Homo sapiens: one gene and its partners. The protein of the gene in region 1 purifies or fractionates together with the protein of each later gene. This does not show direct contact. Each region holds a gene or a part of one and is shown in the gene's direction. Other genes may lie near its edges. The genes, in order: SYNC, KIF15, CCDC102A, TJAP1, GAN, GOLGA5 and GOLGA3.

Region 1 (3,500 bases):
CAGAGCGAGACTCTGGCTCAAAAAAAGAAAAAAAAAAAAAAAGGTATGTTTGGGCCACATCTTTAAGGACCTTGAAACCATGCGTAGCAATTTGGGTATTTATTGGTGAAGTGGAGCAATAGTTCACTCTGTGTTGTAGCAAGTTAACTGTGGTGGTGTAGAGAATAGATTGAGGTGAGGAGAGGAGGAAGTCCTTTTAGAAGACCAGGACAAAAGTGCCAGTGAGACAGGATGTCTTGGAGTAGGGCCCTGATAGTGGGATGCAGAAGAGGGGGATGGAGACTGTAGTCTTTCTAAGATAGAAAGGTCACTTTTTGGCCAGGCGCAGTGACTCGTGCCTGTAATCCCAGCACTTTGGGAGGCCATGATCCCTGGTGGATCACGAGGTCAGGAGATTGAGACCATCCTGGCCAACATGGTGAAACCCTGTCTCTACTAAATACACAAAAATTAGCCAGGCGTGGTGGCAGGCACCTATAGTCTCAGCTACTCAGGAGGCTGAGGCAGGAGAATCACTTGAACCCAGGAGGAGGAGGTTGCAGTGAGCTGAGACCACGCCACTGCACTCCAGCCTGGGCGACAGAGTGAAGCTCCATCTCAAAAAAAAAAAAAAAAAAGAAAAGAAAAGTCACTTCTCAGTGAACTGGCTATACAGGGGAGGGAAAGAGCTGTCTGAAGATTTCTTGCCTGTGGCCGGATGTGGTGGCTCATGCCTGTAATCCCAGCACTTTGGGAGGTCTAGGTAGGAGGATCGCTTGAGCTCAGGAGTTTGAGACCAGCCTGAGCAACATAGTGAGACTTCATCTCTACAAAAAGTTAAAAAATTAGCGGGTGTGGCGCTACGTGCCTGTAGTCCTGGCTACCCGGGAGGCTGAGGCAGGAGGATGGCTTGAGCCGGGGAGGTTGAGGCTGCAGTGAGCTATGATCATGCCACAGTACTCAGGCCTGGGCGACAGAGGGAGACTCCATCTCAAAAAAAAAAAAAAAGACAAAAACAAAAAAACAGAAACAGGAAAGACCAAAGCTATTTGCATTTGAGGGGCAAAGCAGCAAGAGAACACTCCCCAGTGGGAACTGACTGAGCTGGCAGGCAATAGGCAGCTGGGTCAAAGAGCTCAGATGTCAGAATGATGGAATCTGACTTCAAGAGCGTTTGACAGGATAGAAGGGTGGGCCAGTTCTAACAAGATGAACTTTTACAGAAACAAGAAATGTTGCTTACAAGCACTTGGTATGAAAAACTTTTTTTTTTGATACAGAGTTTGGTTTTGTTGCCCAGGCTGGAGTGCGGTGGCGCAATCTGGGCTCACTGCAAGCTCCGCTTCCCAGGTTCACACCATTCTCCTGCCTCAGCCTCCCGAGTAGCTGGGACTACAGGTGCCCGCCACCACGCCTGGCTAATTTTTTTGTACTTTTAGTAGAGACGGGGTTTCACTGTGTTAGCCAGTATGGTCTCGATCTCCTGACCTCATGATCCGCCTGCCTCAGCCTCCCAAAGTGCTGGGATTACAGGCGTGAGCCACCACGCCCGGCATTTTTTTTTTTTTTTTTTTTTTGAGATGGAGTCCCGGTCTGTCGCCCAGGCTGTGGTGTGATCTCGGCTCACTGCAACCTCTGCCTCCCAGGTTCAAGCGATTCTTGTGCCTTAGCCTCCCGAGTAGCTGAGATTACAGGCATGCACCATCATGCCCTGCTAAGTTTTGTATTTTTAGTAGAGACGGGGTTTCACCATGTTGGCTAGGCTGATCTCGAACTCCTGAGCTCAGGTGATCCACCCGTCTTGGCCTCCCAAAGTGCTGGCATTACAGGCGTGAGCCATCTCGCCCAGCCCTGGGGCACTGTTTTTGATACCCATCCCAATTTCTAGCTCTTGGGGAACTTAAGAATAAAGGCAAATTAAAAAAAAATCCTCAAAAGAGTGACAGTCTGAAAGCTGTCATTTGTGTCACAAGGATATGACACAAATGAAGAGGGCACTGGAAACCTGGACATGTATGGAATAACAAAGATAAGCTGGGTTTTTTTTGTTTTTTTTTTTGACAGGGTCTCTGTTGCCCAGGCTGGGGTGCAGAGTGGTGCAGTCATGGCTCAGCACAGCCTCGACCTCCCAGGCTCAGGTGATTCTCCCACCACAGCCTCCCAAGTATCTGGGACTACAGGTGTACACCATCATGCCCAGCTAATTTTTTGTATTTTTTTGTAGAGATGGGGTTTCGCCATGTTGCCCACGCTGGCCTTAAACTCCTGGACTCAAGAGGTCTTGGCCTCCCAAAGTGCTGGATTACAGACATGAGCCACCGCACTTGACCACGGTTATCTTTTTTTTTTTTTTGAGACGGAGTTTCGCTGTTGTTGCCCAGGCTGGAGTGCAATGGTGCAATCTCGTCTCACTGCAACCTCTGCCTCTTTGAAGTTCAAGAGATTCTCCTGCCTCAGTGAGTATCTGGGATTACAGGCATGCACCACCACGCCCGGCTAATTTTGTATTTTTAGTAGAGATGGGGTTTCTCCATGTTGGTCAGGCTGGTCTTGAACTCCCGACCTCAGGTGATCCGCCTGATTCGGCCTCCCAAAGTGCTGAGATTACAGGTGTGAGCCACCACGCCTGGCCGACCATGGTTCTCTTTAAGTGTTTAGATAACTTACACAGAAAAGAAGGTAGAAATATCTGATCCTAGAAGGAAGAATCAGGTAAATCCAGTGGCTAAAAGTTACCAGGAATTGCTGGGCATGGTGGCTCAATGCCTGTAATCCCAACACTTTGGGAGGCTGAAGAGGGCGGATCACTTGAGGTCAGGAGTTTGAGACCAGCCTGGCCAACATGGTAAAACCCCATCTCTACTAAAAATACAAAAATCAGCTGAGTGTGATGGCACGTGTCTGTAGTCCCACCTACCTGGGAGGTGGAGGCTGAAATGGCACCACTGCACTCCAGCCTGGGTGACAGAGCAAGACTCCATCTCAAAGAAAAAAAAAAGTTATAAGGAAGGTTTTACCTCAACATTATAATTTTATTAGAACTGGGCTGGGCGCAGTGGCTCATGCCTATAATCCCAGCACTTTGGGAGGCCGAGGCGGGCAGATCATGAGGTCAGGAGTTTGAGAACAGCCTGACTAACATGGTGAAACCCCATCTCCACTAAAAATACAAAAATTAGCCGGGCGTGGTGGTATGTGTGCCTATAATCCCAGCTGCTCAGGAGGCTGAGGCAGGAGAATCACTTGAACCTGGGAGGTGGAGGCTGCAGTGAGCCAAGATCGCACCACTGCATTCCAGCCTGGCAACAGAGCAAGACTCCGTCTCAAAAAAAAAAGGCGTGGTGGTGCTACTTGGGAGGCTGAGGCAAGAGAATCGCATGAACTGGGGGACAGAGGTTGCAGTGAGCCGACATCACGCTATTGCACTCCAGCCTCGGCAATACAGCGGGACTCCATCTCAAAAAAAAAAAATTATTATAATTGTGGAACAAACAGTGGTGCCTCAGGTATGTCGAGTCCTT
Region 2 (3,500 bases), on another chromosome or scaffold:
CCTGGGCCTCCCAAAGTGCTGGAATTACAGGCGTGAGCCACCGTGCCCTGCCAACAGCTATGATTTATTGAGTGAAGGTGCCAAGCACTGTGCTAACTTCTTTTGTATACATTATTTTACTTAATTTTCAATATGCCCTTTGAGATAAAGACACTAATTTCCCCATTTTACCCTATATATACTGTTACCCTCCTACCCAAAATGTGGTCCTCAGAACATCAGCATCACCTGAGAGCTTGTTAGAAATGCAAAATCTCAGGCCCCACCTCACACTGAATCTGAATCTGAATTTTAACAACATCTGTAGATGATTCATATGCACCTAAAACTTATATGTTCTGTTCTATGGGATAGGTACCCATATTCCCATTTTACAAATATGAAGGCTGAGGCTTGAAAAGGTTCAGCTGGCCCCAGACCTCGCCTAGTAAATAGTGGAGCCATGGTTTGAACTCATATGCATCTGATTCCAGAGCCTGCATTCTGAACTTTCATGTATCCTGCTTGCCATAGGGAATAGAAGGGAAAAAATACTTTGTAGACCAAAAGCTTACAAAACTTTGGGCTTAAAGATAATTTACAGATTTTTCCTGTCCAACATTCTCATTTTCTAGGTAAAGAAATGGGTTCAGAGAGGTTTTGTGATTTACATTAGGTTAACACAAATAAAGCGTGGCAAAACCAGTTCTAGATCCTATGCGCTCTGATTTCCTGTTTGTTCTGTTTCTGTAATGTGGAAAGGGAACACAAAGGAAAGGAAAATAACTTCAGCTTATTCCTTAATGGACCAGTAATCTTTCTCACCACCCTTTACAAATTTCCTACTGATTTTGGTGGCTGTTGTGTACCATTTGGAACTTGGGATAATATAATTTATCTTATAAAGCTAGATAACAATGGAAGGCAATAGATACTCCTCACCCCTGTTCTAAATAGAAAATATGCTTTATGTAAATATATTTCTTTTTCCCTATGAAAGTAGATAATTAGCTGTATGTTAGTATTTTTCATAATAAAATGAGTGATTCTCAAGTGCTTATTTTACATTTTAAGTGTACCTATTCTTGTTCCTTTTTTTTTCTCTTTTCCTTTTTTTTTTTTTTTTAAGATAGGATCTTGCCCTGCTGCTCAGGCTGGAGTGCAGTGGCACAATCATGGCTCACTGCAGCCTTGAATTCCTGGGCTCAAGAGATCTTCCCACCTCAGCCTCCCGAGTAGCTAGGACTACAGGTTCCTGCCACTGTACATAGCAAATTATTATTTTTTGTAGAGGTGAGGTCTCACACTATGTAGGTCAGGCTGGTCTTGAATTCCTATCCACAAGTGATCCTCCAGACATGGCCTCCCAAACTGCTAGGATTACAGGCATAAGCCACTGTAACTGGTCCTCTCATTTCTTTTAATATGTTTTCCTTTTGCATAGGTGTTGTCTGGAGGATGGAGGAATAGACGTGTGGCATCAACATCAATGAACAGAGAATCGTCTAGGTCTCATGCCGTCTTTACAATTACAATAGAGTCAATGGAGAAAAGTAATGAGATTGTGAATATACGGACCTCCCTACTCAACCTGGTGGATTTAGCAGGATCTGAAAGGCAAAAAGATACCCATGCAGAAGGGATGAGATTGAAGGTAAGAATGAAATTATGGTCTTCAACTTGTGTGTGAGTTCTTACTAGCAGTCAATACAGTCGTGATGCATGACAGTGTCTCAGTCAATGAGGAACTGCATTTATGATGGGGGTCCCTTAAGAGTATAATAGCTATACCACATGGCTTAGGTATGTTGTAGGCTATACCATCTCGGTTTGCATAAGTATATTCTATGATGCCCACAAAACAATCAAATTTCCTAACAGCACATTTCTTAAAATGTACCCCTGTTAGCCGGGCGCGGTGGCTCACACCTGTAATCCCAGCACTTTGGGAAGCTGAGGCAGGTAGATCACGAGGTCAGGAGATCGAGACCATCCTGGCCAACGTGGTGAAATCCCGTCTCTACTAAAAAAATACAAAAGTCAGCTGGGCGTGGTGATGCGCGCCTGTAGTCCCAGCTACTTGGGAGACTGAGGCAGGAGAATCACTTGAACCTGGGAGGCCGAGGTTGCAGTGAGCTGAGATCGCGCCACTGCACGCCAGTCTGGGTGACAGAGAGAGACTCTGTCTCAGAAAAAAAAATGTATCCGTGTTGTTAACTGATATATGACCATACCAAGCTAAGTGTTTTGAGGGTGGCAAAGAAATAAGAAATTGTTCCTATTGAAAAGGAACAGAGATTTCTTTTGTGGAACAGTGAACATAGATGGGATAGGGCAAGTCTGTCAGTAGCAAAAATGTTTTAATTCATACCAGAGGGGATAAGGGTACAAGAGACAACAGGGGTCAGAGGAAGAAGGGTGCAATATGGACTGCTTGTGGAACATGTGGAAAAGAAGTAGTTCTTGACTTGTGAAGGATTTCGGTAGGGAGAGAGAAACAGGAAATGCATGCCTGGCAGGGGGGCATCTCAAGGGTTATTGTGGATGCAGAATGAGTGTAGCATTTGGCATTTCAGCATGGCTCAATGGATGGGTTGGTTAGAGAGGCAAGCAGGCCCGGATTATCAAGGACCAGGAGTGCCAGGCCAAGTTTGTATCAACTCTGCGAATACTGGGAAACACTTAACATTTCTTAGCAACTAAGTGATTCATGAAGAAAGCCTGTTTTATAGAAACTTAGTCATCTGACCCACTGCTGTTAAGATTTTAGAAGGGAGAGCCCACAGAAAAAGATGACCACTTACGCTGTTTAATATTTCAGGTATGAAGGGTTAAGTATCTAGTCCTAGGCTAAGGTATCAACAGTGGGACCAGAGGTTCTATGTAATATGTATTGTCAATATGTGTTTATATATATATATATATAGTAATACGAATTGTCAATAAAATATTTGTAGAGTCTATAGTTTAGAATATACATGGGCAAGGGGAGAGGAATTGGAAAGGATGAGGGAAGAGATCTACTTTTTTCATTAAAAGTGAGGATTTGAGTCGCCTGACCTACATTTGAGGCAGTTTCAGGCAATCTGAAGCTCATATTTTTTTGTTTTGAGACAGTCTCACTCTGTCACCCAGCTGGAGTGCAGTGGCATGATCTCGGCTTACTGCAACCTCTGCCTCTCTGGTTCAAGCAGTTCTTCTGCCTCAGCCTCCCAAGTAGCTGAGATTACAGGCGCCCACCACCACACCCAGCTAATATTTTGTATTTTTAATAGAGATGGGGTTTCACCATTTTGGCCAGGCTGGTCTTGAACTCCTGACCTCAGGTGATCCACCCTCCTTGGCCTCCCAAAGTGTTGGGATTACAGGCGTTAGCCACCACGCCCAGCCTAAAGCTCATATTTCTATTGAGATATGAGGCTTAATAAATATAGCATATGGGTTGAGCATGGTGGCTTATGCCTGTAATCCTAGCACCTGGGAGGCTGAGGTGGGAGGATCCCTCGAACCCAGGAGGTCGA
Region 3 (3,500 bases), on another chromosome or scaffold:
TCACAGGCACTGCTTCCCTGTGTCACCAGTCTCCCCATGCCTTACTATTTGCCCCTGAAAAAACAGGATCTTAGAGCTAGAATTCCTTTGGAAGGAATCTAGGCTTAAGCCATTATAGGAATTCCTGCTTCAACATTTGTTCCCATCGGTGCCCCGCCGTAGGTTTGCATACTTCCAGTGACAGGGAGCTCACCACCTCTCCTGGGGAATCTTCTAGGATACAGGGAACCATGGTGGCTGACACTCTGCAGCTCCAGGAGGTGAAAGGGGAGGCCCAGAGCAGGGTGTGTCTTCCTTCTCCAGAGATGGAGAGGCAGGCAGCAGAAGAGGAAACTGAGGCCCAGAGACACTGTGTGACTTGCCCAAGGTTACCCATCAAGCTGATCTCAGACCCAGGGCCTGGCTTGGCGGCCACTGGTCCAGCCTCCACCTTGGTCCCCGCAGGAACTGGAGCTGGTGGAGAGCCTGCTGAAGAGCATGCCAGAGGAGTCTGAGGACTGCTGGGAGGCGCGCAGCCTGGGGGCTGGGGGCCCGCGGGGCAGCTCAGGCCGCCAGGAGCGCAGCCGGCTACCCTGGGAGGACACAGCTGCCACGGAGGAGGAGGCCTCCAAGTTGACCGCCCTGCGGCTACGGCTGGATGAGTCCCAGAAGGTGCTGCTCAAGGAGCGAGAGTGAGTCGTGGGAGGCGGGAGGGGGCAGGGCCAGGGCCAGGCCGTGCTACAACGCCCTCAGAATCACAGAACATTAGACTCACGAAGATGACAGGTAGTGTTTAGACTGTATCTTGGAACTGTAGAGCAGTGGTGTTCCACCCAAGAACTCAGTGCAAGTTTTTATTTATTCATTCAAATAATACGTTACCAGGCACCTGTTCTGGGCCAGGCACTGTGCTCTGCCCTGAGGATACAGCCGTAAATAAGACAGAAGCCCCTGCCTTCCTGAAACGTACTTTCTAGTTGGGGGAGAGGGCTGTGGGCAGGGTAAAAGCAGGGAATGGAGACAGGGAAGTTGGAAGGTTGCAGCTGGGACCTTGGTTTTGGACGTGTGAGTTTGAGATGGCAGGGAGGCAGCTGGGGATGTGAATGAGTCTGGAGTTCATGAGACAGGCCTGGGCTGGAGGTAAAAATGCAAGAGTCACCAGTGAAGAGATGATATTGAAAGCCATGAGCTGGGCCAGGCGCAGTGGCTCACGCCTGTAATCCCAGCACTTTGGGAGGCCGAGGTGGGCAGATCACTTGAGGTCAGGAGTTGGAGACCTGCCTGACCAACATGGTGAATTGAAACCCCATCTCTACCAAAAATGCAAAAATTAGCTAGGCGTGGTGGCAGACACCTGCAATCCCAGCTACTCAGGAGGCTGAGGCAGGAAAATTGCTTGAAGCCGGGAGGTGGAGGTTGCAGTGAGCCGGAATTGTGCCACTGCACTCCATCCTGGGCGACAGAGCAAGACTCTGTCTCAATAAATAAATAAATAAATAAATAAATAAATAAATAAAACGATGAGCGTGGACAAGGGCCAAGGAATGAGTGTGGATAGGGAACTGGTCAGAGGATCCAGCCCTGAAGTGCCAAGTTTAGAGGTCAGTTAGAGGAAAGGGAAACAGCAGAGGAGACAAGAGAAGGGAGCCGGGCTGGGAAGGGGAACCACAAGAAACCGTTTCCCGGAGGACAGAGTGATCAGTAAGAACAGGGCTGAGCCCTGGACCATTGGATTTAGAATGTGGAGGTCACCAGTGACCTTGATCAGAGCAGTTTAGAGGGCACGAGCTTGATGATAATGAATATTCTGCAGTTTTTCTGTCCAGAAATTAAATACGACAATAGCATAACCTATCTACACACTCCTTTTTAAAAAATCAATATAATGGCCAGGTGCAGTGACTCATGTCTGTAATCATAGCACTTTGGGATTCCGAGGCAAGAGGATTGCTTGTGGCCAACCTGGGCCATACAGCAAGACCCTGTCTCTCTCTCTATATATATATATATTTTTTTTAGACAGAGCCTCACTCTGTCAGCCAGGCTGGAGTACAGTAGCACAGTCTCGACTCACTGTAACCTCTGCCTCCCATGTTCAAGTGTTTCTCCTGCCTCAGCCTCCTGAGTAGCTGGGATTACAGGCATGTGCCACCATGCCTCTGGCGCATGTTCTTTGTAGTTCTCCTGGAACTGCATTCCCTATCCAAGTGCAAGTGCCCAGCTCACATTGTGGGGAGGTGGTCGGGGTTCCAGAGCACTGAGCATCCCCGGACAAGTACCTCTCTCCTGCTGCACCTCAGGCTCATCTGAAAATGGCTCCAGGAGGTGGCGGCCCCAGCACTGGCCACTCCACTCCTTGGCCCACCTTGTTCTTCTCGAAGGGCTGTCAAAGACCACCCTGCTCCTGTCTGTTTTGTAGACTATGTTCCCTGCAAGGCTTGGTCTGAACACATGTTTCTGCAGATAGAAACACTGGAAAACACTGTCCAGTGACCCGAAGAGAGGGTTCTCTCTTGCCATCGTCACTGTGTGGGATCCCTACATCCTCCCATAACCCCCACCCTGCCTTGATCTTGAATAAGGCACTGTAGGTTACAAGCATGATGCCTGGCCCTGGCAGAGTAGGTGCTCACCAATGGCTGAGCTCAGCATCACCTTCCAGCACGCTGCCCTTCATGACCCCACACCACACTGGCCTCTCTCTCTGAGAGTGGAACACTCCACGCCTCCAACATGGGGTTCCCAGAGGGGACAACCCAGAGGGTGGCTAAAAAATTAGCCACCAGACCCGGCTAATTTTTGTATTTTTCATAGAGACGGAGTTTTACCATGTTGGCCAGGCTGGTCTCGAACTCCTGACCTCAGGTAATCCACCAACCTCAGCTTCCCATAGTGCTGGGATTACAGGCATGAGCCATTGTGCCTGGCCTACAAAAAAAAAAAAATTAGCTGGGAACGGGGCTGTGCCACTGTAGTCCCAGCTACTTGGAAGGCTGAGGCGGGAGGATCGCTTGAGCCCAGGAGGTCGAGGCTGAGGGAGCTGTGATTGTATGAATGCACCAGTACCCTCCAGCCTAGGTGACAGAGAGAGACGCTGTCTCAAAAAAAAAAAAAAATCACTATAATGCCTTTGTGAAGATGTAGGCAGAGGTCAGGGTGATGCTTTTGCGGACATTGTTGCATCTTTGGCCAAGGAATACCAAAGATGGCCAGCAAACTGCCAGAAGCTGGGAGAGAGGCATGGAACGGATTCTTTCTCGCAGCCCTCAGAGAACCAGTCCTGCCAACAGCTTGATCTTGGACTTCTAGCCTCTAGAAATATGAGAGAATAAATTTAGACTGTTTAAGCCAAACAAGCAAAAAAATCAACCTAGTGCACTAACTGAAATATAAAGTAGAAGTGAAAGTAACTTTTTTTTTTTTTGGAGACAGAGTCTCGCTCTGTTGCCCAGGCTGGGGTACAGCGGCTCTATCTCAGCTCACTACAATCTCTTGTCTCCCTGGTTCAAGCAATTCTCATG
Region 4 (3,500 bases), on another chromosome or scaffold:
CTGGTGAAAAGAGTGGTGGAGGCCACAGGGGTTTGGTCATCAGTGGCTGAGGCCAGAGAGCTCTCTTGGGCCTTGAGACTCCCACTGGGGATCCTGGATTGTATCCCCAAACTCACATTTTTGGTTATGATTTTTTTTAAACTAACATTTATTCAACATTTCCTAAGTGTTTTACATCATCTTCCCAACAACCCTATGAATTGGTGCTATTCTTAACTGGAATCAGTAGCTCACACCTATAATCCCAGCACTTTGGAAGGCCAAGACAGAGGGATTGCTTGAGCTTGAGAGTTTGAGCCTGGGCAACAAAGTGAGACGCTGTGTACAAAAAATAGCCAGGTGCAGTGGCACATGCTTGTGGTCCGAGCTACACAGAAGGCTGAGGCAGGAGGATTACTTGAGCCCAGGAGGTCGAGGCTGCAGTGAGCCAAGATTGCGCCACTACACTCCAGCCTGGGCAACAGAGCAAGACCCTGTCTCAAAAAAGAAAAGAAAAAAAGAAATTGATGCTGTTTTATCGCTAATTTAGAGTTGAGAAAACTAATGCATAGAGAGCAGTTTTACCTTCTGAGGCCTTCAGAGCCCACAAAGGAGAGTGGTAAGGAGGGTGGTGGGCTGCTTTGAAGCTCCCTGTCCCACTCTTAGAACCTAGGTGTTCAGGCCCTAGGCCCTGCCTTTCCCACCCATCTGTTCCCCGTTGGACCCATGCCCCACCCTCCAGCACTCCTTTGACCTATGGGGACTGACACACCTAAGTCCTGCCCCTCTAGTGACTCCAGTAATGGCCCAGGCCTGTCAGCCTATGTGGTGGCCTCAACATATGTCCCCTTTCACCATCTTTGTTTTTTCTCAGTCCAGAGTCCTTCTGGCCACATCTCTGAGCCTGCCTCCTTCTTGCTTCTCAGCAGGCGGAGGAGCCGTCACCTCCCAGAATGACTAGTGCCGCCCCTGCTAAGAAACCCTACCGTAAGGCACCACCAGAGCATCGGGAGCTGCGTTTGGAAATTCCTGGATCCCGGCTTGAGCAGGAGGTCAGCAAGACTGGTATCACAGCCTGACCGGCAGAGGCAAGGCCCCTGAGGCTGGGTGTCTGGCTGACTTCTCCTGCCTGAGCTTCTGGTCCTGAGTTGGGGTGAGAGTGGGCCTTGCTGTTGCAGGCCTGAGGTCTCCTAGCCGCAGTAGTGCAGGTGGGGGTAATGTAGGCTCAAGGGGGACTGTCTGTGAGTATATGTCCACATGTCAGGGAACCCCTGAGTCTTTGTAGCTTAGCAGAAATGATCCCATATGATATTCTCCCTGCAAGAGGCAGCCCAGTAGACTGAGGGGTCCTAATCTGCTAGTGGTTGGGACTCTGGTCCTCCGTAGTGGAGTAGAGCCATTCAACCTGTGGCCCCTTTGGGGCATATCAGGAGGCAGTGCTACAGCCACTTCCCACCAGCACAGCTGCTCTTCATTGTCCCCAGGAAGTCCAGCCCTTCCTCCAGCTTTGCTTTGTTTGGCTAACATTTGTTGAATATGTACTCCCTGCCAGGAACTGTTAGGTCCGGACTCTGCTCTTCGGGGCCTATAGTCAGCTGCAAAACATTGGCTCTCCTGCCCCATTAACTTCACTCACAGGCAGAAACGAGGGCCACAGTGGTTTACTGCCCTTGCAGCCATATCTCCATCTGGTCACAGTGCGTGGAGCACATTTAAAGAACCTGAGACGCAGCATGTGCTGAGCATCAGGCATACTGTAGCCTGCTTTGGTCAGATTCAAGGTAGAAAAGCCATGACTTGCTCATTTCAGTTCAGGGAACATTAAATTAAGATGCCAGCTATTATGCTAGGTGCTACCCAGCGAGCATTACCTCAGTTTTATAAATGAGGGAACTAAGGCTCGGTGAGGTGAAGGCTGTATAATCAGTATGCAGTAGAATAGGGTGAAATCCAGTTGTCAGAGTCAATGGACAAAGGAAGCCACCTACCTCCATTTTCTGCCAGAGGCTGCTCTTCTGAAGCAGTCAGTTCCACATAGAATAGGCCCCTTGATGTTTCCCTCTCGCGATAGCAGGGGCCTACTCTGCTTTGTGGTTGGCTGAACTTGACTCTTGAGCCATGACTGCCATAGGGGTTTGGGGAAGATGGGGCAGGAGGTTAAAAGACAGACAAGGCACTTCCTCCCCTTAGTCAGGATTAGTCCTCTTCTCCCATGCACTTGTTCTTCCTGAGCCTCTGCAAGAGCCTGATTCTGCCTTTGTCTTCATCTCAAGGCTGAGGGCTTTGTCAGAGCTCAGAACTCGTGTGTATAGTTCAGCCTGACTTTTCTGGAAGGTCTCTGCCATACCTCTGTGGATACAGGACCCACCAGGAGCCGAGTGAACAGCTGAGAGGCTGTCTGCCCCTGGGGAGAGGTAGCTTGGGTGCCAGGACTTATTTGAAAATGGCTTTAGGATTGGATTAAGGGTGAAGGTTGGAAGAGGTTCTTGAATCTTCTGGTTGGCATGGGAGAGGGTAGTCGAGGCTTGTCCCAGCATTACTGAATTGCTTCCATCCGTAGAGAGCCCTGCAGCCCTCTTCTGCTATAAGAGTCTTTGGGCTTCACACCTGAGCCTTCTTGTGGCTATTTGGAGGGTGAGCCAGCCGGGGGTCCAGTGGTCCAGAGCTGAGCCTCAAGCCTCTCTTTTTTGCCTAGGAACCCCTGACTGATGCAGAAAGGATGAAGTGAGTATCTGCTACCTGAGATACTGCCCTGCCTCAACTCTGTCCCTCTTAGCTCCAGGCTAGACTGTTGGTACAGTTGGACTTTCCCTTGGATTAGGTAGAAATAAAGGTTGGGATGGGTTGTTTTAGGGACTCTGGGAGGAGTGTTGATGTTGTGGATATTTTTTCTGGAAAATGGGATTTTATTGTTCCATGGGCTTCAAGAGAGCGTAGAATCAGGAGGCGAATGGCTCTGAGGGCCCTGCTCTTCTTGCTAAGGAGCCCTTCCCCAGCTCCTGGCTCCTGTACCAGCTGCCACCCTTACAGCCCTTTAGCCACATGAGGCCTCTGGAGAGGAGGGCAGTGCTGGGCTGGATTTCCAAGAGATGAATAATGGAGAAGCCTGATTGTGCAGTGGGGAAACTGGAGCTGGGGGCTTGGTGGCCAGCTGACATGGGCTGTAACCAGAGACAGGCTGGGAGCCATATCCCTACCCCCAATTCTTTATTTCTATTCTCCGATAGTGAAGGGAGGCTGGACTGTCCCCTACCATCCCCTCTTCCTCCCCTGACCCTCCAACCCAGGCTGTGTTCCCAGGGCCAGCAGGCCTATGAAATATGCTGCCTTAGACTCAGACTAAGACTCCAGGAGTTTCCCTGTCCTGTTTGCCTGTCCTCATGTCATCCCTTCCTTCCTGAGCCCACTCTGGAGCTCCAGGGCATGCCCTTCTATCTCTCATACCCCTCTGCCCTTGATCCCACAACACCCTGCCAGGCTCTTACAGGAGGAGAATGAAGAGCTTCGCCGGCGCCTGGCCT
Region 5 (3,500 bases), on another chromosome or scaffold:
CAAATTATAGCTGGTTCTTTTCCTGTCTTTTCCTATTGAAATGGGAATCCTTTAAGGTGTAAAGGAAGCTGCTTGAAACTTTTACAGTGATACCTCAAATAAACTGATGATTTTTAAAAATTAAACTTTTACTTATCAAGACTCTGGGAAGTAGACAGTTAGGGCCAGGAGAAGATATTCAAGCAGCACGAGTGTGTCTCACTTGCCTGGTAATAACCTGAGTGTTAACAGTTTGTTTTCCATGAGGTGGAAAATGTAGATTCTAAAAATGATGTGTTGCATTTTCCATTGTTTTCGCCCCATCTTTCTTCCCTCTTCTGCAGGTCCACATGAAGGATGTTATGTCAGCTCTGTGGGTTTCAGGGTTGGACTCCAGTTATTTACGGGAACAGATGCTGAATGAACCATTAGTACGAGAAATTGTCAAAGAGTGTAGCAATATACCGCTCAGCCAGCCGCAGCAAGGGGAGGCGATGCTGGCCAACTTCAAACCCCGGGGCTACTCTGAGTGCATCGTGACTGTTGGTGGAGAAGAGAGAGTGTAAGTATGAGGTGGGACTTGTTTGAAAAGTGGTGTATGGGAAGAGGTAGTTCCATGTAAACAAGAATTCATAATGCTTTTCAGTATCTAAAACATAATTACATTTGATTTTTTTTTTTATACTTTAAGTTTTAGGGTACATGTGCACAATGTGCAGGTTAGTTACATATGTATACATGTGCCATGCTGGTGTGCTGCACCCATTAACTCATCATTTAGCATTAGATATATTTCCTAAAGCTATCCCTCCCCTCTCCCTCCACCCCGCAACAGTCCCCAGAGTGTGATGTTCCCCTTCCTGTGTCCATGTGTTCTCATTGTTCAGTTCCCACCTATGAGTGAGAATATGCGGTGTTTGGTTTTTTGTTCTTGCGATAGTTTACTGAGAATGATGATTTCCAATTTCATCCATGTCCCTACAAAGGACATGAACTCATCCTTTTTTATGGCTGCATAGTATTCCATGGTGTATATGTGCTACATTTTCTTAATCCAGTCTATCAATGTTGGACATTTGGGTTGGTTCCAAGTCTTTGCTATTGTGAATAGTGCCGCAATAAACATACGTGTGCATGTGTCTTTATAGCAGCATGATTTATAGTCCTTTGGGTATATACCCAGTAATGGGATGGCTGGGTCAAATGGCATTCCTAGTTCTAGATCCCTGAGGAATCGTCACACTGACTTCCACAAGGGTTTTTAAAAAATGTTTTAAATATTCTTTAGTAAACTAAAACTAGTGATGGCTACTTATAAAAAGAACTGTATGAAGCACATTAACTACTGATCACTTATTTACTTCCTTAGTTCACGGAAACCCACAGCAGCGATGCGATGCATGTGCCCTCTCTATGACCCTAACAGGCAGCTTTGGATCGAACTGGCCCCTTTAAGCATGCCGAGAATTAACCATGGAGTTCTCTCAGCAGGTACCGTTCTGTGGCAAATTTTCCTTAAACAGCAGATCAAGTAATGTGTAATCTCAAGGTTTTACAGAATGACTCAGAGCCTTTTAAAGATACAATTTTATTATCTCTACATGACATTTTTAGTGTAGTTCTAGCTTCTGAGACCGTGGTTAGGAAAACCGTATTTTCTGTCAGTCCTTATTATCTCTGTATCTTCAGCACATAGCTGCTTTTAAGAACTACTGGAGAAGCAGTTACTTGATGACTTAATGTCAGGAGAGCAAACTTCAGTGATGCTTACCACTAAGTAGCTGTAGGGCCACACCTGGAACACAGCGTTTCTTTGCACCATGGTAGTCCCATCTTTGAAATTCATGCAGCTTAGAATTACAATATGTAATTATATAAAATATGTTATATAAGGCCGAGTGTGGTGGCTCACACCTGTAATCCCCGCAGTTTAGGAGGCTAAAGTGAGAGGAGCCTAGGAGTTCAAGACCAGCCTGGACAATGTAGGAGAGAAACTGTCTTTACTAAAAATCAAAAAAATTAGCCAGGCATAGTGGCATGCACTTGTGGTCCCAGCTACTTGGGAGGCTGAGGTGGGAGAATCTCTTGAGCCCAGGAGATCGAGACTGCTGTGAGCCAAGATCACACCACTGCATTCCAGCCTGGGTGACAGAGTGAGACCCTGTCTCAAAAAAAAAAGAAAAAAAAAGAGAAGTTATGAGACTTTAGGAAATGCTACTTATATAGGCAATGGCTTAAAGTTATTTAGTATGGAAAATGCTTTACTTGACCTTTACAAGTTTGAAAACTGCTCTACTTTATCCAAAGCTCTCCCTTAAGGAGCTGATAGAAAAGATAGCCATTGAGGCATTGCCTTTGCTGGCTGCCTGTCTTTTCGCCGTGGTCCTGCTCCCTTGTCCACCTGATAAGTGTCATCTCATGTCATCCTAATTGTGGTCAGCAGCCCTCCTGCAGTCCTTATTTAATTGTGTTTGCTTGCCCAGCAACATTATCTTTAAAATTTTATTTTTTATTTTATTTTTCTTTTTAGAGATGGGATCTTGCAATGTTGCCCAGGCTATAATATTTTTAAAGCTATACTGTACCACAGTGCATCATACAAATGGCCAAGGCTCTACCATAGTATAGAAGTGGAGTCATTTTATGAGTCCCAAAATTATTAGTTATTGTCAGTAGTGAAGAGCTGGACAGAGTAGTATAGCCTGCAGGATGTAGGTCTAGTTTCCCTGTTGCATCTTCTCAGAATTAGCTCCCTTACATTTCCCCCAAAATATATACACATATTCCTAATTTTCACACATACACGTCTGTCACAAAGGCTCCTATATGACTAATATTTGAAAGTTTGCTAGAGGGATTGGTGTTTCAGAAACCCAGCAATGGAAGGAGCGACTGTGTACAGTGGAATTGATGGAAACAGAAGTGAGTGATTGAGGAGGTCCTTCCGTTTGTCCAGGCTGCATTGTTTTTTTTTTTTTTTTTGCCTTTTTAAAAATTGATTTTGACTGTTTTTTTGTCATTCAATTTTTCTTCTCTACCAGTTTGGGACTTACATTCTTGTTAATAGTCCTTTAGGAAGATTACCTTAGAAATTACAGCCTGTATTAAGTTAGCAAAGTCCAAAGTTAGTCAGTACCTGTGTTCTCTTCAGGAGAGTTTTTCTTCATTTTCCATTTTCCATACTCTTACAGTTTTAAAATGCATTATCACTAATAAATATGTACAGTAGATCCCCCTTATCAATGAGGGATGCATTCCAAGACCCCCGAGTGGTTGTCTGAGACCACAGATAGTGCTGAACCCTGTACATACTGTGTGTTTTTACTATACATCCATACCCATGATAAAGTTTAAGTTCAGCACAGTAAAAGATTAACGACAATAACTGATAATAAAACGACGATAACAATATACTGTAATAGTTATGTGAATGTGGTCTCTCTCAAAATATCTTACTTTACTGAACTCACCTATTTTCGGACTGCAGTTGACCATGGGTGATAAAACCACAGAAACCAAAA
Region 6 (3,500 bases), on another chromosome or scaffold:
GTTAGGATTTCAACCCAGGATTGCCTGACTCCAGAGTCTGGTCTTAACCATTTATCATACTCTGCCACTATGCCACACTGATCATTTTATGTCCTTTTTACAGGTTTGCCAATAGGATTATCCTGCTGCCATCATGTCTTGGTTTGTTGATCTTGCTGGAAAGGCAGAAGATCTTTTAAACCGAGTTGATCAAGGGGCTGCAACAGCTCTCAGTAGGAAAGACAATGCCAGCAACATATATAGCAAAAATACTGACTATACTGAACTTCACCAGCAAAATACAGATTTGATATATCAGACTGGACCTAAATCTACGTATATTTCATCAGCAGCTGATAACATTCGAAATCAAAAAGCCACCATCTTAGCTGGCACTGCAAATGTGAAAGTAGGATCTCGGACACCAGTAGAGGCCTCTCATCCTGTTGAAAATGCATCTGTTCCTAGGCCTTCATCCCATTTTGTGCGAAGAAAAAAGTCAGAACCTGATGATGAGCTGCTGTTTGATTTTCTTAATAGTTCACAGAAGGAGCCTACCGGGAGGGTGGAAATCAGAAAGGAAAAAGGCAAGACACCTGTCTTTCAGAGCTCTCAGACATCAAGTGTCAGTTCTGTGAACCCCAGTGTAACCACCATCAAAACCATTGAAGAAAATTCTTTTGGGAGCCAAACCCACGGTAGTTAATCAGTCCTCTTATTTCTTTTAGAGTTAAGCAAATTGAATGTGTCATCATATGATCCGATGGTGTTTCTCATCTACTGTTATGGAATCTGTCTCCACTGGTGTAAGGGCAGACTCTCTGCAAATGTGTGGTGTAAACAAGGGAGACATCATTGACTACTATTAGTCAATAGACAGTTGTAGCAGGGACTTCATGTTGTCTGGAGGGCAACTTCACCCACTCAGCATCTAACAAAGTATTTCAAATTTGTTTCTCTAAGACATTTTAAGATTAAAAAAAGAAAATTTTGAAATCTGAAAGAAAACATGTCAGTTTGGATCGGGGACTATCCCAGTTGATATCTTTTTGTTACTAGGATTATAAAAATGACAGGAGGCTGTACTTCACGTATTTTCTGGGTTGTGTTTTTTGTGTGTTTTTCCCCCCACATCCTCCACAAATAAAGCTGAGAGACTGAACTTTGATCCAAGTTGAAGAGTTGAAGGCATTGACCTAGTAGTGAAGCAAGAGCTTAGAACTCTTGTTTTCAATTGTTTAATTCCCTCTGAGATTACCTCTACAAGTACACCTTCTTTCTTGTGAAATGAGATTAACGTGGTAAATGTGGCTAATTCAAGTACCTACTAACTGTTTTAAAATAGCTATAGGCTGGGCGTGGTGGCTTACACCTGTAATCCGAGCACTTTGGAACGCTGAGGCAGGCAGAGCACTCGTGCCCAGGAGTTTGAGACCAGCCTAAACAACATAGCAAAACTTTGTCTCTACAAAAAATACAAAAATTAGCCAGGCACAGTGGTGCATGCCTGTAGTCTCAGCTACTTGGGAGGCTGAGGCGGGAGAATTGATTGAGCTCAGGAGGTCGAGGTTGCAGTGAGCCGAGATTGTACCACTACACTCCAGCCTGGGCCGTAGAATGAGACGCTGTCTCCAAAGATAAAAATAGAAAAAAGGCAAAAAACTTGATAGTAGGTTCTTGCAGGGATTCTTTTGTTGTTTTGAGACAGGGTCTTGCTCTATCGCCGAGGCTTAAGTGCCGTGATGCTATCACAGCTCGCACTACCTTTGACCTCCCCAGGCTCAAGCGATCCTCCTGCCTCAGCCTCCTGAGTAGCTGGAACTATAGGTGCACACCACTGTGCCCAGCTAATTTTAAAAAATTATTTTTAATAGAAACAGTGTCTCACTGTGTTGCTCTGGCTGGTCTTGAGCTCAAGTGATCCTCCTACTTTGACCTCCCACAGCATTGGGATTATGGGCATGATCTACCGTGGCCTGGCCATAGGGATTTTTTTTTTTTTTTCTTTTTTGAGACGGAGTCTCACTCTGTCACCCAGGCTGGAGTGCAGTGGCCTGATCTTGGCTCACTGCAAGCTCCACCTCCTGGGTTCATGCCATTCTCCTGCCTCAGCCTCCCAAGTAGCTGGGACTACAGGCGCCTGCCATCACGCCTGGCTAATTTTTTTTTTTTTTTTGTATTTTTAGTAGAGACAGGGTTTCACTGTTAGCCAGGAGGCTCTTGATCTCCTGACCTTGTGATCCGCCCGCCTCGGCCTCCCAAAGTGCTGGGATTACAGGCGTGAGCCACTGTGCCTGGCCTTTTTTAATGTTTTTATTTATTTATTTATTTATTTTTTTGTGAGACGGAGTCTCGCTTTGTCGCCCAGGCTGGAGTGCAGTGACGCGATCTTAGCTCACTGCAACCTCCACCTCCTGGGTTCAAGCGATTCTCCATTTCAGCCTCCCGAGTAGCTGGGACTATAGGTGTGCACCACCACCCTTGGCTAATTTTTGTATTTTTTGGTAGAGATAGGGTTTCATCACGTTGGCCAGGCTGGTCTTGAACTCCGGACCTCAAGTCATCTGCCCACCTTGGCCTCCCAAAGTGCTGAGATTACAGGCGTGAGCCACCACACCTGGCCAGGGATTCTTTATAGAGTTGATTATTGATGGGAGATTGTCATGTTCTTGGATGTTATAGCTTCTTTCATTGTCTTGGCTGTTAGTGAATAAAATCTTTCTTGTATTTTCAAGACAAAAACTTGTATAGAAGAAGACGTTTTGGGTTGTGAAAATAGGATCAGGCAGTAGCAGTTGATTAATATGTTCACATATTCCAAAATTTCTTCTCAGCTATCTTTCAATTAATTACACAAAGAACCTACTAGGTGCAAGGATATGGAAGTGTCCAGTGGGTGAGCTAGACATGTAAACAGATAATTTACTTGTGGTCTAGTAAATGTAGCAATTAAGTATGGTCAGAGTGTTGTGGAAGTATGAAGGAGGAAGTAACTAATTGCCTAGGGTATTCAGAAAGGATTCACAGAGGGTCTGTATTTTTAGCTGGGTCTTAAAGAATGAACAGGAGTTTGCCAGGTAAAAAGTTAGAGACAGCATTCCATGCAGAGAGAACAGACTCTAAGAGGCTAGTAGAGTAGAAAACATTGTAACAAAGTTGGAAACACTGAGTGAGTTGGAGGGTGATGAAGAAAATGTAGCTAGCAAACAAAGTTGGGACCTGTTTGTGAAGGCCCTTGTGTCATACTGTTTATGCAATTAAACCCATTACTTCTATAATCATTGTTAAAGATTGATTCCTGAACAACAGGCTTTAGAATCGCTTGTGTGTTGTTAATTTAAAAATGAATTATTGAGTGCCTTCCCAGGCTTCCTGAATCGTTATTTTCTGGGGATGGAGCCAGGGCATCTGATTTTGTTGTTGTTGTTCTGTGGGTGGTTCTTAGCCAATAAAAGTTGAAAGTGGCTGCCATAGCCAGTGTGATGCTAGTAGAGATCTTTAAGTCAAGAGTTGACATAGCT
Region 7 (3,500 bases), on another chromosome or scaffold:
TTGGAGGAGAGGTCCTGGGTCCACAGGCTTTCCTATGAACCAGTCATGTCCTGTTGTGCCTCTGATGCTCTGGACAGTGTTTGGAAACGCTTGTTGGTCTCAGTAATGAGTGGTTTGTGGCCGGGTGCAGTGGCTCACACCTGTAATCCCAGCACTTTGGGAGGCCGAGGCAGGTGGATCACGAGGTCAGGAGTTCAAGACTAGCCTGACCAATATGGTGAAACCCTGTCTCTACTAAAAATACAAAAATTAGCTGGGCATGGTGGCGGGCACCTGTAGTCCCAGCCACTCGGGAGGCTGAGGCAGGAGAATCACTTGAACCTGGGAGGCGGAGGTTGCAGTGAGCTGAGATCACGCCCCTGCACTCCAGCCTGGGTGACAGAGTGAGACTCCATCTCAATAAAAAAAAAAAAGAGTGGTTTGTAAGAAGGCAGACGTCTCTCTCAGGATTTTTCTCAAGGCCCAAGTCCTCCAGGGCGAGCCTGAGCAGTGCCTTTGGTGGGGGTGATGGGCTGGAGCCAGGAAGGGGAGACAGGCTGGGGGTGGCAGTGCCGCTCCTCACGCCCTCCTTCCCTTCCACAGTCGTTGCAGTTCGATAAGGAGCAGATGGTCGCGGTCACAGAGGCCAATGAGGCGCTGAAGAAACAAATCGAAGAGTTGCAGCAAGAGGCCCGGAAGTAAGTCTGCATGTGCCCGGGGGAGGTGCGGGGGCCAGGTGGGAGGTGCGGGGGCCGGGGGGGAGGCGAACCAGAATGCCAGACGGTCACATCGGGATAATTCAGCTTCCTCCTGTGTCTCCCTCATGACACCCCAGGGCCATCACGGAACAGAAGCAGAAGATGAGGCGGCTGGGCTCAGACTTGACCAGCGCCCAGAAGGAGATGAAGACCAAACATAAGGCCTACGAGAACGCCGTGGGCATCCTCAGCCGCCGCCTGCAGGAGGCCCTCGCGGCCAAGGAGGCTGCGGACGCGGAGCTGGGCCAGCTCCGAGCCCAGGGTGGCAGCAGTGACAGCAGCCTGGCTCTACATGTAGGTAACACCGTGCCATCCCCGGCCAGGGTCACCAGCCCCTCAGTGCAGGGAAGGGCTCTCCATCAGCAGTTGTCCCCTAAAGCCTAGCGGGGCCGAGCTCGCGTGGGAGGTGGCAACTCTCTAAACTCCCGCTCATCTTCCAGGTTACCAGGAACCCACAGTGACTGAGCATTGCCTCGCGTCTCCCTCATGAACCCCACATGGCCTGTGGCCTGTGGCGTTCACCTGATTTTCCTCAAGAAATCTCCTTGGCTCAGAGAAGTTCAGCTGCTCCCTTGGGGCAGAGGGAGGGCCTGCCCTGGTCCGCTCGCGTTCCAGCTGCCTCTGCGCCTCCTCGCATCTCAGGAGGAAAAGCAGCCTCCGCACTCACTGAGAAGCAGGAGTGAGGGCATGGGGTCAGCGATTGACAGGGTTCAGGGAGCGTTTAGAGGTAGCCATGCTGCGGTGGCCCAGAACAAGCGGGTGCCCTTTCTGGAGGGCTCTGAGCAGAGCCTTCCGTGGAGGCCGTGGCCCTCCGTGCTCTGTCACCTTTCGTGGTAGGCATAACATTCTACCTGAGTGAGTTCATCCGCATTTTATTTATTATTCTCCAATTCACGTCCTTGCACTGACAACTTAGTATTTCTTCTTATATGTGGTTTGTTTCTATCTCCTGTCCACTTAAGAATTTATGGGTAGGAAGAGACTGTATCATAACGTGGGGTTTTCTTGTCAAATAAACTCGGCCGGGCACGGTGGCTCACACCTATAATCCCAGCGCTTTGGGAGGCTGAGGCAGGAGGATCGCTTGAGCACAGGAGTTTGAGACCAGCCTGGGCAACATAATTAGACCCTGTATTTACAAATAATACAAAAATAAAACCCAGGCATGGTAGCACGTGCCTGTGGACACAGATGCTTGAGACACTGAGGTGGGAGGATCGCCTCAGCCTGGGAGGTGAGGCTGAAACTGCAGTGAGTCATGATTTTGCTGCTGCACTCCAGCCCGGGCGATAGAGACTCTGTGTCTGAAATTCAATAAATAAATCAAGTGCTTCCTCTCACCTGGTTGCTTTGTAAAATGTTGGGGAGATTGATTCAGTTGCCATTTTCTTTGGGCTCACTAAGGGCTGGGGTGGGGAGGTCGCAAAGGCCGGGCAGAGCTGGCCCCTCGCCACGCTGTTGCAGCTGAGGAATAGCACAGCTGCGAGCCGATGTCTTGTGTCCGTCCGGGCTTCACCCCTCGCAAGTGGTGACTTTTGGCAAATTTCTCACCTTTTTGATCCTCAGCAAAATGAGGCCAAATTGAGGTGAATGAGAACCTTCTCATGTAAGGGTTAAGTTAGGTGGTACTGGAACATGCTTGGCAAGGGCCTGGTACCATCGAGGCAGCAAGTGGGCGGGGTGTGAGAGCACACCTGTGCCTGCATGTATCCGTGCATGTGTGAGGTGTGAGCATGTGTGTGTGCAGCGTGTGGAGTGTTTGTGTGCATGGTGTGTGGGATGTGAGCATATGTGTGCATGCAGTGTGGGGTGTATGTGTGCATGCAGTGTGAGGTGTGAGCACATGTGCATGTGTGGTGTGGGGTGTGAACACGTGGGGTGTGAGCATGTGCGTGTGGGGTGTGAGCACGTGTGTGTGTGGTGTGTGGGATGTGAACATGTGCACGTGGTGTGTGTTACATGAGTGTGTGTATGTGATGTGTGGTGCGTGAGCATGTGTGTGGTATTTATTACAACTGGTGCTGCTTGCTTGCCACAGATGGTGATTTATAGCCATTATCTGCAGGTCAGATTTTCTTCTGTATTTTTGAAGCATTGAACTGAAGAGATGATTTTGTTTGTCCCAACTATCCCCGTGTGTCATCGTGTGCATGCTGTGGTCGGTTAATTCAACTTCTTTAACAAAAAGGAAGGTTGTGAGACTGTGTCAGACAGCTGGTGTCTGGTGTGTGCAGCCACACAGCCTCATGCCTGCCGGCACCACAGGAAGTGAGGGGGGTCAGGGCCTGTCCCATGACCAAGCGCCCGTTCCATCTTGGCCCTTAGGAAAGGATCCAGGCCCTGGAGGCGGAGCTGCAGGCTGTCAGTCATAGCAAGACGCTGCTGGAAAAGGAACTGCAGGAGGTCATAGCGCTGACCAGCCAGGAGCTGGAGGAGTCCCGGGAGAAGGTGCTGGAGCTGGAGGACGAGGTGAGGCCTGGCCATCTGCTGTGGCGGCAGCGTGGGGCAGGTCACGTGAGCCCTGGACATGCCGCCACGCGTGAGACCCGAAGAACAAAACTTCACCGTGTGCCCAGCGTTGCTACTTTTGGTGTTGCCACCTTCTGACCGTCGGCCTCTGGCTCTGTGGTGGGGCAGGCCCTGATTCCAGCCCTCTGGGGAGGATCACTGTACAGCCTCTTTGGTGGAATGGTTACAGAATTCATAGTGGAACCCTTCTCAGTTCAAATGCTTTGGTTGCAAATAAGAAACCCAACTTCGCCA

The links.
Region 2: the proteins of SYNC (region 1) and KIF15 purify together in Homo sapiens (affinity purification with mass spectrometry; 2 studies listed by BioGRID and IntAct, with this or other methods). This does not show direct contact.
Region 3: the proteins of SYNC (region 1) and CCDC102A purify together in Homo sapiens (affinity purification with mass spectrometry; 2 studies listed by BioGRID and IntAct, with this or other methods). This does not show direct contact.
Region 4: the proteins of SYNC (region 1) and TJAP1 purify together in Homo sapiens (affinity purification with mass spectrometry; 2 studies listed by BioGRID and IntAct, with this or other methods). This does not show direct contact.
Region 5: the proteins of SYNC (region 1) and GAN purify together in Homo sapiens (affinity purification with mass spectrometry; 2 studies listed by BioGRID and IntAct, with this or other methods). This does not show direct contact.
Region 6: the proteins of SYNC (region 1) and GOLGA5 purify together in Homo sapiens (affinity purification with mass spectrometry; 2 studies listed by BioGRID and IntAct, with this or other methods). This does not show direct contact.
Region 7: the proteins of SYNC (region 1) and GOLGA3 purify together in Homo sapiens (affinity purification with mass spectrometry; 2 studies listed by BioGRID and IntAct, with this or other methods). This does not show direct contact.

The regions. Positions count from the first base shown.
Region 1 is NC_000001.11:32,696,271-32,699,770, reverse strand, and holds part of SYNC (syncoilin), read left to right. Parts: intron 1-2,341; exon of another isoform or gene 2,342-2,435; intron 2,436-3,500.
Region 2 is NC_000003.12:44,792,794-44,796,293, forward strand, and holds part of KIF15 (kinesin-like protein KIF15), read left to right. Parts: intron 1-1,423; coding exon 1,424-1,633; intron 1,634-3,500. UniProt on the Homo sapiens protein: Plus-end directed kinesin-like motor enzyme involved in mitotic spindle assembly.
Region 3 is NC_000016.10:57,523,072-57,526,571, reverse strand, and holds part of CCDC102A (coiled-coil domain-containing protein 102A), read left to right. Parts: intron 1-444; coding exon 445-671; intron 672-3,500.
Region 4 is NC_000006.12:43,498,070-43,501,569, forward strand, and holds part of TJAP1 (tight junction-associated protein 1), read left to right. Parts: intron 1-853; exon of another isoform or gene 854-908; 5' UTR 909-932; coding exon 933-1,031; exon of another isoform or gene 1,032-1,067; intron 1,068-2,674; coding exon 2,675-2,703; intron 2,704-3,456; coding exon 3,457-3,500. UniProt on the Homo sapiens protein: Plays a role in regulating the structure of the Golgi apparatus.
Region 5 is NC_000016.10:81,356,462-81,359,961, forward strand, and holds part of GAN (gigaxonin), read left to right. Parts: intron 1-323; coding exon 324-541; intron 542-1,348; coding exon 1,349-1,470; intron 1,471-3,500. UniProt on the Homo sapiens protein: Probable cytoskeletal component that directly or indirectly plays an important role in neurofilament architecture.
Region 6 is NC_000014.9:92,797,305-92,800,804, forward strand, and holds part of GOLGA5 (golgin subfamily A member 5), read left to right. Parts: intron 1-103; 5' UTR 104-133; coding exon 134-677; intron 678-3,500. UniProt on the Homo sapiens protein: Involved in maintaining Golgi structure. Stimulates the formation of Golgi stacks and ribbons. Involved in intra-Golgi retrograde transport.
Region 7 is NC_000012.12:132,783,870-132,787,369, reverse strand, and holds part of GOLGA3 (golgin subfamily A member 3), read left to right. Parts: intron 1-582; coding exon 583-677; intron 678-814; coding exon 815-1,031; intron 1,032-3,062; coding exon 3,063-3,206; coding exon of another isoform or gene 3,207-3,344; exon of another isoform or gene 3,345-3,500. UniProt on the Homo sapiens protein: Golgi auto-antigen; probably involved in maintaining Golgi structure.